Homo sapiens: one gene and its partners. The protein of the gene in region 4 interacts with the protein of the main gene of each other region in a biochemical or structural test. Each region holds a gene or a part of one and is shown on either strand. Other genes may lie near its edges. The genes, in order: SLC15A5, MAP2K2, ARHGEF16 and PDZD9.

Evidence for each region.
Region 1: the proteins of PDZD9 (region 4) and SLC15A5 interact in a test that uses a peptide from one of them, tested with the Homo sapiens proteins (one large-scale study listed by IntAct).
Region 2: the proteins of PDZD9 (region 4) and MAP2K2 interact in a test that uses a peptide from one of them, tested with the Homo sapiens proteins (one large-scale study listed by IntAct).
Region 3: the proteins of PDZD9 (region 4) and ARHGEF16 interact in a test that uses a peptide from one of them, tested with the Homo sapiens proteins (one large-scale study listed by IntAct).

Annotation. Positions count from the first base shown.
Region 1 is NC_000012.12:16,221,958-16,225,845, forward strand, and holds part of SLC15A5 (solute carrier family 15 member 5), read right to left. Parts: intron 2,646-3,888; coding exon 2,457-2,645; intron 1-2,456. UniProt on the Homo sapiens protein: Proton oligopeptide cotransporter.
Region 2 is NC_000019.10:4,113,931-4,117,818, forward strand, and holds part of MAP2K2 (dual specificity mitogen-activated protein kinase kinase 2), read right to left. Parts: intron 3,700-3,888; coding exon 3,489-3,699; intron 1-3,488. UniProt on the Homo sapiens protein: Catalyzes the concomitant phosphorylation of a threonine and a tyrosine residue in a Thr-Glu-Tyr sequence located in MAP kinases. Activates the ERK1 and ERK2 MAP kinases.
Region 3 is NC_000001.11:3,460,978-3,464,865, reverse strand, and holds part of ARHGEF16 (rho guanine nucleotide exchange factor 16), read right to left. Parts: intron 1,801-3,888; coding exon of another isoform or gene 1,782-1,800; coding exon 1,194-1,781; intron 1-1,193. UniProt on the Homo sapiens protein: Guanyl-nucleotide exchange factor of the RHOG GTPase stimulating the exchange of RHOG-associated GDP for GTP. May play a role in chemotactic cell migration by mediating the activation of RAC1 by EPHA2.
Region 4 is NC_000016.10:21,987,418-21,991,305, forward strand, and holds part of PDZD9 (PDZ domain-containing protein 9), read right to left. Parts: intron 1,375-3,888; coding exon 1,185-1,374; intron 1-1,184.

The DNA of each region.
Region 1 (3,888 bases), on a different chromosome or scaffold from region 4:
GGTGGTTTATGGCAGAAAGAGCTGGGAACAGGACACCTGTGCTTCTGTTCTGAGTCTGACACTATTAATTCATGTGAAACATGATAATAATATTAGGTTGGTGAAAAAGTAATTGTGGTTTTTGCCATTACTTTTAGTAATGATAACAACACATTATAACTGCTAATTATTGAATGCTGTCTATATACGGGGCACTGCGGTTTTTGCTTTACATAAAATCTTCCACTTAGTCCTTTGAACAACTCCCTGTTTTATAGATGATGAGAAAAGCCCAGAAATGAGGAATAATTTTCCCAACGTCACAGAGTTAGTCAGTGACAGAACTGGGTTTGAATTCAGATCTGTCTGACTTTAAGACCATAGAGCCTAACCTCTGTGCTGTACTGTCTCCCAGAAAGGTAATACTTGATTTTATAGTTTGAAATACCCTTTCATATGTTATGTCATTTGATTTTCAAGGAGTAGTCTCTCATTCCCATTGATGCTTACCCTATCAATGCTGTGATATAAAGAAGAATACAATTATTTCTATTTTAAATATCAGAAAAGTGAGGATTGGAGGTTAAATGAGTTCCCAAATTTATGTAGGTAGTAATGGAAAAGCTAGATATCAGACCAAATTCTTTCAGTCCCTGGTCCATTATCCCAATAGCAGATGAGTCAAGTGACTTAGACCTCAGTTAGGCCTGATTTCCTGGAGTAAATCAGGGAGTGGTGGAGTAAGTGATGTGTAGCACATGATCTGCCTTTTTCACAGTCATTGGTTTTCTGTACCTCTCTGGCTTCTGAATGTTGAACCACTATTGCTAAGCTGGCTAGCAATTTCCTCCACATATTCACTCATTACTTTTACTCATTATTTACTCTATACCAGCCCAGAAAATTTTGGCTGACTACTTCCAACACATTTTTGGGAATAACATCAGAGAAGATCACAAATATTTGTGTAGTAGCATTGCTTTACACTTCTTTTGTCTTCCTTGCAGTGTTAAACAGTGAGGTCCCCAGTTTAAAATCTCATAAAGTAATTTATGTATGCAAAATATATGGGATGAAATGATATACAATTATAAAAAAAGAAGTCTGAGACACACATATATATGCATATACTCCAACTTAATTTTATTTTCATTATTTAATGAATTGCCTTGGTATCATAAGTATGTGTGTGTATAAATACATATTTATTAAATATTTATTTTAAGGAGTTTGGAAACAACTTTTAAGATAATAGAATCATTGAAGATTGTAGACACAGATGGAATGGTTAGAATTGTTATTTAGGATGATTACTCTAAAATCCATGTGCCAGTTGATAGAATGGGAGAGATAATGGAGGTCGGAAGATAGTTAGAAGTTATAAAAATATTATCCATAAAATATAATGGGAGCTTGAGTTACAATCAGGACTCCTACTACACGAAAATTTAAGGAGGATAGAAACATAAGATGTAATCAATTACAGAGATAAATAGATGTACACACACATTACTGTATTGCAAGAAGCCACTGAAATATTGTGATAAATTGTAAAGTGGCTAGTTTAATTAATATAAGCAATCTAGATAATTCAGAAACCCTTGATATTTAATAAACTTATTTTGAACCTGTCTTATGAAACATTAGTGATCTCATTTAATCTAGTGTAATTTAATTCAAAGACATCAAGTTATCTGGAAAATTGGCTTAAATTTTCATTTCATTTGCATGTTTATATACTCTCAAAGAACATTAAGTGTCATTTTTGGAGGAGTATAAATGAGCTTTTTTTTTTTTTGAGATGGAGTCTCACTCTGTCACCAGGCTGGAGTGCAGCGGCACAATCTCGGCTCACTGCAACCTCCGCCTCCCGGGTTCAAGTGATTCTCCTGCCTCAGCCTCCTTGAGTAGCTGGGACTACAGGCGCCTGCCACCACACCTGGCTAATTTTTTGTATTTTTAGTAGAGACAGGGTTTCACCATGTTGGCCAGGATGGTCTTGATCTCTTGACCTCGTGATCCACCTGCCTTGGCCTCCCAAAGTGCTGGGATTACAGGCGTGAGCCACCGCACCCGGCCTGTGAGTTTATCTATGAGTGAGAGTCGGGGAGGTGAGAGGAGGGAAGGGAGAAGAGAAGAGGCTTTACATCTTAGTGTTCTGGAGTTGTCTTCTGGGTTTTAGCAGAGGTTTTCCTCCTGTGGTGTGTCTGACAAAATGGTTATTGCCTTTAACCAGATTAAAAATCTTTTGTTCCATCTGCATCCAGGCAGAATTGATAATTGTTCTGTGCATGGCAGAGGAATGAGGAGAAATGAAATGTTTGTAAAAAAGTAATAAATAAATTTGCTGGAAGTATTGTGGGAACTCTCTAGGAGGTGAATAGATGACATACCACTTTAATTGTTCTGGTTGAGGTGATGTGTTCTGTGTAAAGGTTCAGTATGTTCTAACATTAGTTGAAAAGGTGTTTACTCACGGGCTGGGTTTACCAGTGTTTCCGCCACTCCAAGTAAAACATACTGAAGAATCAGGTAGAAACAGGGCATGGAGGAAACAGTGAGAACTTTTCCTGAAAGGGGCTGCTCCACTGCAGGGAAATGTTTTCGGTGTATTTCAAAGAAGCCAGCTATCATCACAGACAATGCAGCAAAAAGATTTCCAGCAACTGAAGGAAAATAATGCAAAAGAAAAAAAAGTTAAACGAAGAGCTAGAGATTCATGTAATAAGCCATAACATTTCTTACCCATTGACATTAGATGTTTCTTTTTTGTTTGTTTGTTTTTATTTTTTTTTAATTTTTTTATTATACTTTAAGTTCTAGGGTACATGTGTACAATGTGCAGGTTTGTTACATATGTATACATGTGCCATGTTGGTGTTCTGCACCCATTAACTCGTCATTTACAATAGGTATATCTCCTAATGCTATTCCTCCCCCCTCCCCCCACCCCACAACAGGCCCTGGTGTGTGATGTTCCCCTTCCTGTGTCCAAGTATTCTCATTGTTCAATTCCCACCTATGAGTGAGAACATGCGGTGTTTGGTTTTTTGTCCTTATGATAGTTTGCTGAGAATGATGGTTTCCAGCTTCATCCACGTTCCTACAAAGGACATGAACCCATGATTTTTTATGGCTGCATAGTATTCCATGGTGTATATGTGCCACATTTTCTTAATCCAGTCTATCATTGTTGGACATTTGGTTTGGTTCCAAGTCTTTGCTATTGTGAGTAGTGCCGCAATAAACATACATGTGCATGTGTATTTATAGCAGCATGATTTATATTCCTTTGGGTATATACCCAGTAATGGGATGGTTGGGTCAAATGGTATTTCTAGTTCTAGATCCCTGAGGAATGGCCACACTGTCTTCCACAATGGTTGAACTAGTTTACAGTCCCACCAACAGTGGAAAAGTGTTCCTATAGGCAATACCATTCAGGACATAGGCATGGGCAAGGACTTCATGTCTAAAACACCAAAAGCAATGGCAACAAAAGCCAAAATTGGCAAATGGGATCTAATTAAACTCAAGAGCTTCTGCACAGCAAAAGAAACTATCATCAGAGTGAACAGGCAACCTACAGAATGGGAGAAAATTTTTGCAATCTACTCATCTGACAAAGGGCTAATATCCAGAATCTACAAAGAATTCAAACAAATTTACAAGAAAAAAACAACCCCATCAAAAAGTGAGTGAAGGATATGAACAGACACTTCTCAAAAGAAGACATTTATGCAGCCAACAGACACATGAAAAAATGCTCATCATCACGGGCCATCAGAGAAATGCAAATCAAAACCACAATGAGATATCATCTCACACCAGTTAGAATGGTGATCATTAAAAAGTCAGGAAACAACAGGTGCTGGACATTAGATGTTTCCTCAACATTTGTTTGCCCTC
Region 2 (3,888 bases), on a different chromosome or scaffold from region 4:
CTGGATGTAGCCAAGAGTCACGTGCAGCCCACACTGCGCTTCCAAACATCCTGAATTAGGTGTTGTCAAAAATTGGAAGAGAGCCGGGGCAGTGGCTCACATCTGTAATTCCAGTGCTTTGGGAGGCTGAGGCGGGAGGATCGCTTCAGGCCAGGAGTTCAACACTGGGCAGCGTAGCAAGCCTTCATCTCTACAAGAGATTTTAAAAATTAACACACAGGCTGGGAGCGGTGGCCAGCTAGGGGACCGCAGTGCAGTGGATCTGGAGGCTCAGCCCCGGCAGCTGCTCCCAAGTCCGAGCAGATCCAAGAGGGTTCGAATCCGATTCAGGCACTGACCCCACACAGCCTCGGTTTCTTCAACTGTAAAACGAGGCTGCTGTTCAATTTTAATGAGAACACGCGTCAAAGGTGTTGGCAGCGGCTTCGACTCAGGTCGTCACTTGTGAGACAGCAGCTGGTACTGTGAGGTGGCCTTGGGCAGGCCGTGTGACCGCCACCCTGGAAGTAAGCTACAGCGGAGTGGAGGAACTCAGAGGCGAGAACAAACACTCTCATCTCTGCTATGAGCATGGACAATTCAAAGAAGCCCCACACGCGTAACAAGCAGCAAGTTCTTCACCTATCTCCCTGGCCCAGGTAACGCGGGGACGCTGCTCCAATGGGAGAGGGGTCAGAGGCCACGGTCAAGCCAAAAAGACATTTACAAACCAGCATGACCTCAAATACCGAGACTGGGCCAGGCGCGGTGGCTCACGCCTGTAATCCCAGCAATCTGGGAGGCCAAGATGCATGGATTCCTTGAGGTCAGATGTTTGAGACCAGCCTGGCCAACATGGTGAAACCCCGTCTCTACTAAAAATACAAACATTAGCCAGGCATGCCAGCCACTCAGGAGGCTAAGGGAGGAGAATCGCTTGAACCTGTGAGGTGGAGGTTGCAGTGAGCCGAGATTGTGCCACTGCACTCCAGTCTGGGTGACAGAGCGAGACTCTGTCTCAAAAAAATAAATAAATAAAAATAAGTAAATAAATAAGATGAAATGAAAGGAGCCCTTGCAGCCCTACCTGCATAGCAGCCAGAGCCGCTGAGCCCACGAGCTCAATGCATCCTCTCCCACCCGAGTTTTCGGGCACTTTAAAGAAAACCTAATTTTGAAAGAATTATAGAAGCACAGGAAGTTGCAAAAATAGTAACGAGAGTCCCGTGCGCCCTTTCCCCGCCTCCCCCAAGATGACTGACATCTTACATGACGGAAGGACAGTACTGACACCCAGAGCTGATGCTGGGACATCTCCACCCACCAGACCACAGAACCTGCCCAGCCACGCCTGCCCTCAGGTTCAAAGGCCCCGATCTCCCTTTCCCCGCTACAGTAAAGCTGCAGGTGGGCCCGGCTTCACCTGCGCCTGTCAGCAGGAGCAGGAGCTGCTGATACAGCAAGCATTGGGTTCATGTCCACTGCCCAGCCCATCAGGGACCACTGGAGGCTCCCCCAGAAGCCTGAGGGTCCCTGGCACACACGAGGACTGGCACTGTCTCAAGGCCCTGCTGTGGCTGTGTGAACCACACGCTTGCCTTTTTCCACCCAGTGCTTCGGGCGGAGGCGGACCTGAGCTTTCCAAGGCTGCTCCGGTTTGGAAGAGGCTGCCTGCAGTACGGGGACAGAAATAGCAAGTCCGCGGCTGCACACTTCAGGAGGGAGGGAGGGCAGCACTCTAGAGGCCAGAAGACAGAGCTGCAGAGCTAAATCCCCGCAGGAGTTGAGCCGCTGCTCCCGAGGAAGGCAGGGCCCTCAAGCACTGCTGCCACCTGCGCAGACCCACGGGACTAGGTGCAGTCACGTTCCCCCAGTTTGGGGAACTACAGGATGGTGGGCTTCCAGGAAGAGGCAGCGTTCTAGGTCTGAAAGAACACCGGTGAGGAGCTGAACACCCTGTCAACACTAAGTCCCCTACTTCTGTGTTTAAGAGCCACTGTCCCCAAGTGGTCACATCCTCCCTGTATCCCCTGGGCACTATTCTCAAACACAGAGCACAGAGGCTGCATCATGGCCCAGGAGCCCGGGATGACTAAGCACGGGGGCCGTCAGCACCAGGGCTTGCAGACTTTCAAAGGGTGGGTGACAGTCAGCTTTGTGTGTCTCCTCGGTGAGACCACGGTGCCCAGTTGTCAAACGCCAGTCTAGAGGTTGCTGGGAAGGTATGTTTTTAAGATGTGATTAACCTTTAAATTGGCAGACTCTGAGCAAAGCAGATTACTCCACCCCAGGGTGGGTGAGTCTCAGCCAATCAGCTGAAGGCCTTCAGGGAAAAGCCTGCCCAGGCGCGGTGGCTCATGCCTGTAATCCTAGCACTTTGGGAGGCCGAGGCAAGAGGATCACTTGAGGTCAGGAGTTCGAGACCAGCCTGGCCAACACGGTGAACCCCATCTCTACTAAAAAAACAAAAATTAACTGGGTGTGGTGGCATGCACCTGTAATCCCAGCTACTCGGGAGGCTGAGGCAGGAGAATCCCTTGAACCCAGGAGGTAGAGGTTGCAGTGAGCCAAGATCGCACCACTGCACTCCAGCCAATTCCTTAGAATAAATCTCTCTCTACACATACACTCAAGTATCATTAAGGACAGGGATACACTGAGAAATCCCTCTCTGGGCGATGTCGTCACTGTGCAAACACTGGAAAGCCCATTCCACACCCAGGCTCCCATGCTCTGTACAGCGCAGTGCTGAGCTGCTGTCTGTTTATTTAAATATAGAGAACCGAGGCAGGCGGATCACCTGGGGTCAAGAGTTCCAGACCAGCCTGGCCAACATGGCGAAACCCTGCCTCTACTAAAAACACAAAAAAATGAGCTGGGCCTGGTGGTGTGTGCCTGTAATCCCAGCTACTCGGGAGGCTGAGGCAAGAGAATCCTTGAACCCAGGAGGCGGAGGTTGAAGTGAGCCAAGATCATGCCACTGCACTCCAGCCTGGGCAACAGAGCAAGACCCCGTCTCAAAAAGTAAAAATAAAAATAAAAATAAACATACAGAAGGCACAGCAAAAACATGGCCTGATCATCTTACGTCGCCACCGCTGCGTAGGCGGTCTGTCACTGGCTGAGCCATCGCCCTGAGGTGGCTGTACACATAGGCGCAAACACACACACGCTTCGTCTTCATCGCTTGTTTCTCTGGAGAACCATAACACACTCGCATTTCTGAAACCCCCACGTGCTAGCTTTCTGGGAATATGGATTTCAAGTGCCCTCCAGGGCAGAAAGTAGTCACTGGAGGGCACAGCTGTGTGTGGCTGGTGTGGCTGGCACGGCTCCCATCTGCCCAGAAGCTGGGCCCTTTCTCAGGACCTAGAGTCCCTGGTGGGGATGAGGGACAGAGCCTGGAGCTAATCAGAATGCAGAGACCCGGCTGCCTTCCCAACCTGCCTCCTGTTTCCAGGGGGACCTTCCCCACCACTCCCCGACCTCCCCGACCCCGCAGTGCTCACCTTCCTGGCCATGATGAGGCCCGAGGGTCTGTGCTGGACTTTGGTGACCACCCCGCCGTTGCCCGCGCCCAGCTCTGAGATCCTTTCGAAGTCATCGTCTTTGAGTTCGCCGACCTTGGCTTTCTGGGTGAGAAAGGCTTCCAGCCGCTTCTTCTGCTGCTCGTCAAGTTCCAGCTCCTCCAGCTTCTTCTGCAGGTCCACCAGGTTTGCCCTGCAGAGACCCCCCAGGGTAGGGGTTAGCTACCTAGGGAGACTCCATCTGGCCGTTTGCTATGTGGCCGTGGTGCATCGGCCCCCAGGAGGACACAGACTGGATTCCTGCACTTGAGGGGTTCATGGTGTAGAAGGAAAGGATCCATGCTGTGTACCCCCATAGACACACCAATGACCAGAATCCAGG
Region 3 (3,888 bases), on a different chromosome or scaffold from region 4:
AGTCTGGGCAGGAGCTGGGCCTGAGGAGGCAGCTGGGACGGCAACCAGTGAAGAAGACGCTCTGGCACACACCTTCCGTGGACACTGCCCAGAGGATGCCCAGAGGGCGGCTGTGATCTTTGCTTCCACATGGGGAAGCCAAGGCTCAGGAAGGTTCAGGAACTCATCTGGGTCACACAGCACCTGCCCCCGCCCTCGTCCTTCACTGAGGCAGCCCATATGCTTGGGGCCTGTTTTCCAACACGTCTGAGCAAGGCGCCCAACAAGAAGGACGCCCCTGGGGCCAGCCCTGCATCTGCTCTGCATTCTTGAGGGTGCTCGGGCTGCCAGGGCCTCCTGATGGGCGGTTCCAGGGCAGCTCGCCTCCCCTACCCCAGCCCTGCCTGAGCCCAGACCCACCAGCTAAAGAGACCAAGCAGGGTGGCCAGAGTCGCAGTCCTGGCTGGGTGGGTGTCCAGGTACCACGCAACTCTCCCTGAACGTGGCTTCCAGCTCCAGGGCTGCCTGAAATGAAGGCCTGGCCCCCAGCCGCAGGGGATGGTGACTCCGAGGATGAGGGACACTGGGCCCAGGAGCCCCAGCTGGACGCTCTGTCCCCTGGGCCCTAGTGACACATGCAGTCAGGCTACACCCTGCCCAGCAAAGGGTCTGCCGCCACCATGCCCCAGACCTAGAGCCACCACCAGCAGGCAGGGAAGCAGGGCTCTGTGTACAGAGGGAATGTGCAGACTTCTCCTAAGCCCCAGGCCACCGCACAGCTGCCCCGCTTCAGTCCCTCCCGCCTGAGTCCCTGTCTGGAGCTGCCGGGGCAGATGGAGCCCAGGCCAGTCACTGCAGCCAGGTCACCCTGAACCCTATCATCCAGGCAGGCCGGCTCCTGTCCAGAGCTCGGAAACAGGGACTGGGCCCTTCCAGGGATCTGCCCTCCACCAAGGCTGGGAGCGGGGACACCAGAGTCTGGGGGCCTCGGTAGAACCCTCGACCTTTCCGAGCCTCTGCTGCCTCATCTGTAAGGTGGGATCTTCACACTCACAGACTGGGCTGAACTGGAATAAACCAGTCGAGAGCCCTCATGCAGCAGGTGCTTACTAACGGCAGCTGCCATGATGCAGAAGATGACGGTGGTGGAGACGGCCAGGCCGCCCCTCTGCCTAGCAGCCCCCTCCCCACGGTCCACACGAGCAGGCCCCTACCTTGTTTTTGGCCGGGCTCCGAGTATGAGGCTGGCTGGGTTCCTCAGCCAGAGCCTGGAGCTTAGGGCTTAGCTGGATGGCATCTCCCTGGCCACCTGGCTTCCCCAGGCCCTTCATGGCCGCCCGGTAGGATTGGTTCCGCAGGTTCCGCCTCAGCATGCCCCCGGGGTCCTTGTCCACGTCCATGTCATCCAGGGAGAAGCTGGGGGCTGGGAGGAGCTTAGGGTCCCGCCGGGCGGCCTCCCTGCTAAGTACAGCCGCCCCGAAGCTCTGGTGGCGGGCTGGGGTCTTTGCCTTGCTGGCCACAGCCAGGCTCTTAGGGATCAGCTGTTGGGTGCCCAGCTTGAGGGCCGCCGGGCTCTCTGTGCTCAGGACGATGGGCCATGGCTCCTCGTGCCCCGGGGGCCGAGGCTGTGGGGGTGCCGGGACCTGGGGCTGGAAGGCGGCATCGTCTCTAACACGCGGGGAGCCACGGACCATTGGGAGCCCGGAGGCTGGGTTCCCCCCGGCATCGAGCCGGAGCTCCGAGTGGAAGCGGTGTCCCAGGAGCTTCTCCTCCAAGGAGCTGTCTGAGTGCCGCTGGGCCATGCTGGGCGGCTGTGGGGTCCTGGGGGAAGGGCAGAAGTGAGGTCTCGTGAGGCTGCTCTCCCCTGCCCCCGCGGGTGTCCACCCCCCTACCCCTTTGCATATGTCTGGCCGGGGCTCCAGTACAGCTCCCAGGACACAGCAGGCAAGGACAGCGACGCAGCCAGGAGCACAGTGGATCAGTGGCACAGCCAGTCCTGACCACTGGGAGCCAGCCATGTCTGAGGCCGGAGGCTGGACACAGGATGGGACTGGGCAGGCGCTGGTTCTCCGAGCTCCAAGGGACCAGGTGGGCACAGCCTATGGGGGTAGGCTGGACCTTGGAGGTTGGGAGGCCACACTGCTTCCTCTGATGGGCAGCACGCACTGAGGACACATTCCTGAGCCTGGAGGCAGGTGGGGCAGCTCAGGTGCATGGCCCTGGAGCCCTGAAGACCTGGCCTGGAATCCTGGCTCACACCTGGCAGCCATGCAGCCTCCTGGAACCACTTCCTCGTGGTGAACGCAAGGGTCATGGCGTTGCACTGGGGGGCTTCCTGAGGCCGGCATCAGCCACAGCGGCAGTGACCACAGCCTCTGCCTCATTGGGGTCTTCCAGGCACCTGAGCCAGGCTCTGCTGGGTTGGGGGGAGGGCAGGTGCATTTGCCCACATGCTCCCGGCCCGAGCCCAGGCCTGTGTGATTCCCCTCTCTTAGCCACACAGTGATATGACTGTCGCGGACTGTCCATGGAACCTTTCCACACACCAGGCAACACGCTTGCATTTTTCCACGTTTCTGAACTGGGCATAAAGCTGACAATTCTGGTCTCAGGAGCCCCACCAGTCACCAGCCCGAGAGTCCAGTATGACACCTGGCCACTGGGCAGGTGTGGTGGTGGCAGGGGTGGCAGCCCACAGTCCCACGTACACCCCCCAGCAGAGAGCGGGAGCTGCCCTGTAGACATCTCTGTAGCCCGATCCCCACACCCCGTGGGCTGCCCCGCCCCCGCCACACTCCTGCCCGCCCCTCCTGGCAGCGCGTGCCCCCGAGCCCATCTCTACCCCACTGTTCCCTTCATGGTCCGGGGCTGGCACCCTGCCCCTGACACTACTGCTTCCCATTTCTCACTTTCCTCCTTCCAGACCCGAGGCAGGGCTGCCCTTCTGCCCCTTGGGAATGGCACAGTCCTGAGACTGGCTTTGGGACATACGTGCCTGCCAGGTAGGAATGTGGAGAGCCAGCTCTCGACCTGCCTCTGCGTCTTCCCTGGCTGCCATGACTATAGGCACGCGTGGCCAGGCAGAGCCTCAATGGCCTGGACCCCGTGTGACCGAGATGTGCAGAGCCCCCAGCCGACACGGCCTCCAGGAGCCGGGCCCAGAGGTCTGTTTCCAGGCACTTTGCGGGGCTGTTGTGGCTACACATCACCTCCTGAGTGACGGCGCATTGCTCGGCCACAGCGGTCAGGCCCACAGTGAGCTTTCACGCCCCGGGCTGCTTGCAACCCCCCTGGGCACTTGCAACCCTCAGGCCACTGAGCAATGGATTCCGAGGGTCTGGTCTCTCAGGCCTCCCAGCTTTCCCCTCTGCTGCTCAGGGGCTCCCCACACGTGTCAGGGAGCAGCCCTGACCCAGGCATGTGGTCAATGAGCAAGTGACGCTGCCTCTCCGTGCCTCAGTTTCAAAATCTGCAAAATGGGCATGATAAGAGCAAGGCCCACCTCCTGAAGGTACGGTGGGAAGTGTAAAGCGTGCAAAGCGTGTAACAGGCCTGGCCGGTGTGAGGCCTGCGTCTGCGCCGCAGTGACCAAGGCCTTGCCGAATCACAGACAAGCTCATGCTCCCTATGCTCAGGGAGCTTCGTAGGTTCAAAAGGTAACGACATGGAGAAAACTCGCTGCTTTCATTCTTTCCCTTTTAAAAAATAAAGATAAAAACAATAACCACCACCACTCAGTATGCCTCCTATACACCCAGAACGTCACACACATGAAAATGACCGGAGTCTCTTGCGGGTGGAAACTGATTTTTCTGATGGGAAAACAAGGCTGAGTCACTCGCCCAAAGTCACTTCCTGCAGGGAGGTTGCCTACAGTCAGCCACACAACTGACCTGGATTAGCACCTTT
Region 4 (3,888 bases):
CTCCAAGAAAAAAAAAATACAGTTTTGGTGATAATACAGTTTGAAAGTAATTAGCATGTGGATAGTCATAGAAACCACAGGCATCAATGAAACTGGCTAGGAGAAAGGACACCAAGAGGAAATGGCCAGAGGTAACAGGAAAATCAGGGGAGTGTGGTGTCACAGAAGCCTGGGAAGTGCTATTTCAAGAAGAGAGTGGGTGGAAATTGTTAAGTGTCTAATGCTGCTCAGAAGCCAAGCAAGATAAAGACAGAAGAATCTAGTGGGATCAGAAGTGTGAAGGCTATGGGTGGCCCTGGGAAAAGGACTCAGCCAAGGGATGAAAGCAAAGCCTAGATTGAAGTGGGTGGAGGAGTGTCTGGGAAGTGGCGTCTTTCGAGGAAACAGAGGTGTCTAATACAGCTTTTAGCAAGTTGGGAGTGGATGCAAAAGACTCCAGTGGCTAAAGAGGGTAGGGAGAGGAGAGTGGACTGAAGATAGGATTTGCCAAGATGGGAGAAGTTTAAAAAGGCTTAGATGTTATTGGGAAGGACCCAGAGAACAAAAAGTTGAATACGGAAAAGAAAATAGGATTTGCAAGAAGCACTTTTTTTTTTTTTTTTTTTTTTTGAGACAAAGTCTCGCTCTATCTCCAGGCTGGAGTGCAGTGGTGCGATCTCGGCTCACTGCAACCTCCGACTCCCTGATTCGAGCGATTCTCCTGCCTCAGCCTCCCGAATAGCTGGAATTACAGGCACGCGCCACCACATCCAGCTAATTTTTGTAATTTACTAGTAGAGACGGGGTTTCACCATGTTGGCCAGGATGGTCTCGATTTCGTGACCTCATGATCCACCCGCCTCAGCCTCCCAAAGTGCTGGGATTACAGGCATGATTCACCACACCTGGCCCACAAGAAGCATTTTTAAGGGCTGACTCGGGAAAGAGGGGCACCATACAGGTAGGCATGGGGACAAAATTCCCAACCGATGACTTGTTTTTTAACTCCAGGTTGACTTCATCGTGCTTTCTCATATTAGATCCTACAGATCTAATACCAGAAACCCAGGAAATTACTCTGACAGTGTCACCAGTCCTCCTGTCATGATCCTTATCATTTGATAATTGTCACATTAAACCATCTATGCCTCACAGGCCCTGGGATTCTGTATTATAACAAAGAGTTCCTAAAATGAACTATTTACCTTGTTACTGGGAATTTGGCCTCAGGGATTAAATCATATATTTCTTGCCATTCTTCAGGAATGTTAATAAAATCTCGGTAAACCTTGATTTGTAGCACTGTTCCAATAGTGATATGTTGCAAAAGCTGTAAAAATTCTCGAAGAGTATATCCTAACACATTGGCATGGCCAACACTAATCAGAACATCACCTGAAGAGGGAAAAAATTATGTATCAGTAAAACTAGAGGTTTAAAGGGACTATATTGATTTCTGGCTTTATTGTGAGGTATTTCATTTTATGGGTTCATATTGTTGATTCTTTTTGAACCAAAACCAGGCTTCAGCCTTTTTTTTTTTTTTTTTTTTGAGATGAAGTCTAACTGTCACCCATGCTGGAGTGCAGTGGCATGATCTCAGCTCACTGCAAGCTCCGCCTCCCAGGTTCAAGTGGTTCTCCTGCCTCAGCCTCCCAAGTAGCTAGGATTATGGGCATGTGCCATCAAGCCTGGCTAATTTTGTTTTTTTTTTTTAGTAGAGATGGGGTTTCACCATGTTGGCCAGGCTGGTCTCAAACTCCTGACCTCAGGTGATCTGTCCACCTCGGCCTGCCAAAGTGCTAGGATTACAGGCATGAGCCACCGTACCCGGCCCAGCCTTTATTTAATAAAGATGTTCATGTCCATGATATGAATGTCCTTTGCATACTGAAGAATGTATGCAAGATGTTTCTTAATAGCAGTATATTGGTAGACATTATATGATGTTTTTGAGACGTTTCTGAAGTTCTTGGTGTGACAGAGGCTAAAAAACATTTATAATCGGAACCAGCTGTTAGGATTCTAAAAATAGATTAGTTTCAGATAAAATGAATGGCTATTACTAGAAAAGAAAAAACCACTTACACTAAGTGGTGAATAAATGACCTACTTTCTATTATACCTGCCTGGCAATTTCCAGTGCCCTCCACAGTTAATAGACCATATTAAACATAAAGCCTTTCATTTTAATTCTCTACCCTTGTGCAGTATTAGTTGAGCAAATAATTCTGTATAAAACATTGGGCAATTAGGCATGCTTTAACTGTAAGATGTGTATGCAGTGAGTATGTTGGTTTAAAGGGATTTGACAGCTAGGTTTCCCTACCTTAGGGCAACGCAGGATAAGGAAAGAAACAAGATGGGCAACCATGCAGCTTCCGAGTCCCTGGCAGGTGGGAAGAGGACTACATCTTGAGCACTAACCCCCGAAACCCCCAAATTGAAGGAAGCTAAAAAGACCAATTTTTCACTTGCTCCAACCTCCCCCATGTCCCCACCTCCAGCAGCTAGGTCATGGACCTGTGAGTGAGATCCAGCTACTTGACACTCCCACCTGGGTCACTGAACCTGGAGGAGGAGATGCAAAAGAGTGACAGGAGCTTCTAGTTGCTAGGGGTAGTTACACACAGCTCTTGGTTCTCTCACCATTTTCCAAGCCTGCTTCTCCAGCCTTTTGGGAGATTCTGTCAGACTCAGTATCCCAAATTCAGTGCATTAACAGAAGTGTTTTCTGTTTTTTGCAATGAGGAACCCTGGCTGCTACAACGGCATTCAGCAAGACTTCAGAAAGGAATACAAAGGATTTGCTTTTTAAGGACCAGCTCACATTGGGCAAAATCTTAAGTCTTCAGATCTTACTAGTACTGACCTTCTGGAGACCCTCAATCAGCCTCATTCTAAGACAGCTGAAGCCTAACCTCAAAGAAGAAAAGGGTCAAGAAGTGCCTTCTCTGATGCATGCACTGGGCTTCAATCAGGAATTACACTGATCCCAAAAGAAGCCTCTAAGGATGCCAAGGACAAATGTCCATAGCTCTAGATCCTATCAGAAACAAAAGTTCCCAGAATTCCAGAAAACAAATACTTACAAGGGTGGAGAAAAACCTTCTACTTTGGTCTTAAGCAGTAGCTGGGGGTAATACAATCAACCATGTATCTGAAGCTCACTTCAGAATGAAACAAGGCTACCTGCAGCTTGAGCAATATGAAACAGCTGCTCATCCTACTGAGGTTAATTACAATGGCAAAACAAAACAAAACAAAACAAAAACAAAACCCTCCCCGGATGAGCTTACTTACCTAATGTTAAAAGCAGTGTTTATAGCTGAAAGCTATGGCTTGGCATTCTGCTTAATTATGTTGTAAAAGTGTGACTTTTATCAAGAGGGCAGAAAATAAACAGCTTAATTTCCTGACCGTTCTGGCTGTAAACCAAACATGTCAGCATGTGAATGTGATTACTCTAGCAATAGATATTAACATTGCCCTTCATACAGAAACACCAATTTCGTACTTATGAACACCAACCTCATTACACCTTTTTTTTTCTGTTTTAATGGGCTATAGGATGACATTATATAAACTTTGTCTCGATTACCTACAGTAAATCAACTTTGCAGCAGCCAAGCCACTACTGAAAAATATTTTATCTTTTTCATCTCTCCCAACTAGGCTGGAAGTTCCTTAAGTTCCTCAAGGCTAAGGACCATGTCTGTGCCGTTCACCACTACACCCCCAGTGCCTAGCTGGGTGTCTGCACACACCAGGCCTTTAGGAACTGCTTAGGCAGTAGCCAGTCCATGACTTGTATTTACTGTTGAAGCTACATTAATTTCTTTTTTTTTTTTTCTCCTGAGACAGGGTCTCACTTTGTCACCCAGGCTGGAATGCAGGGATACAAATACA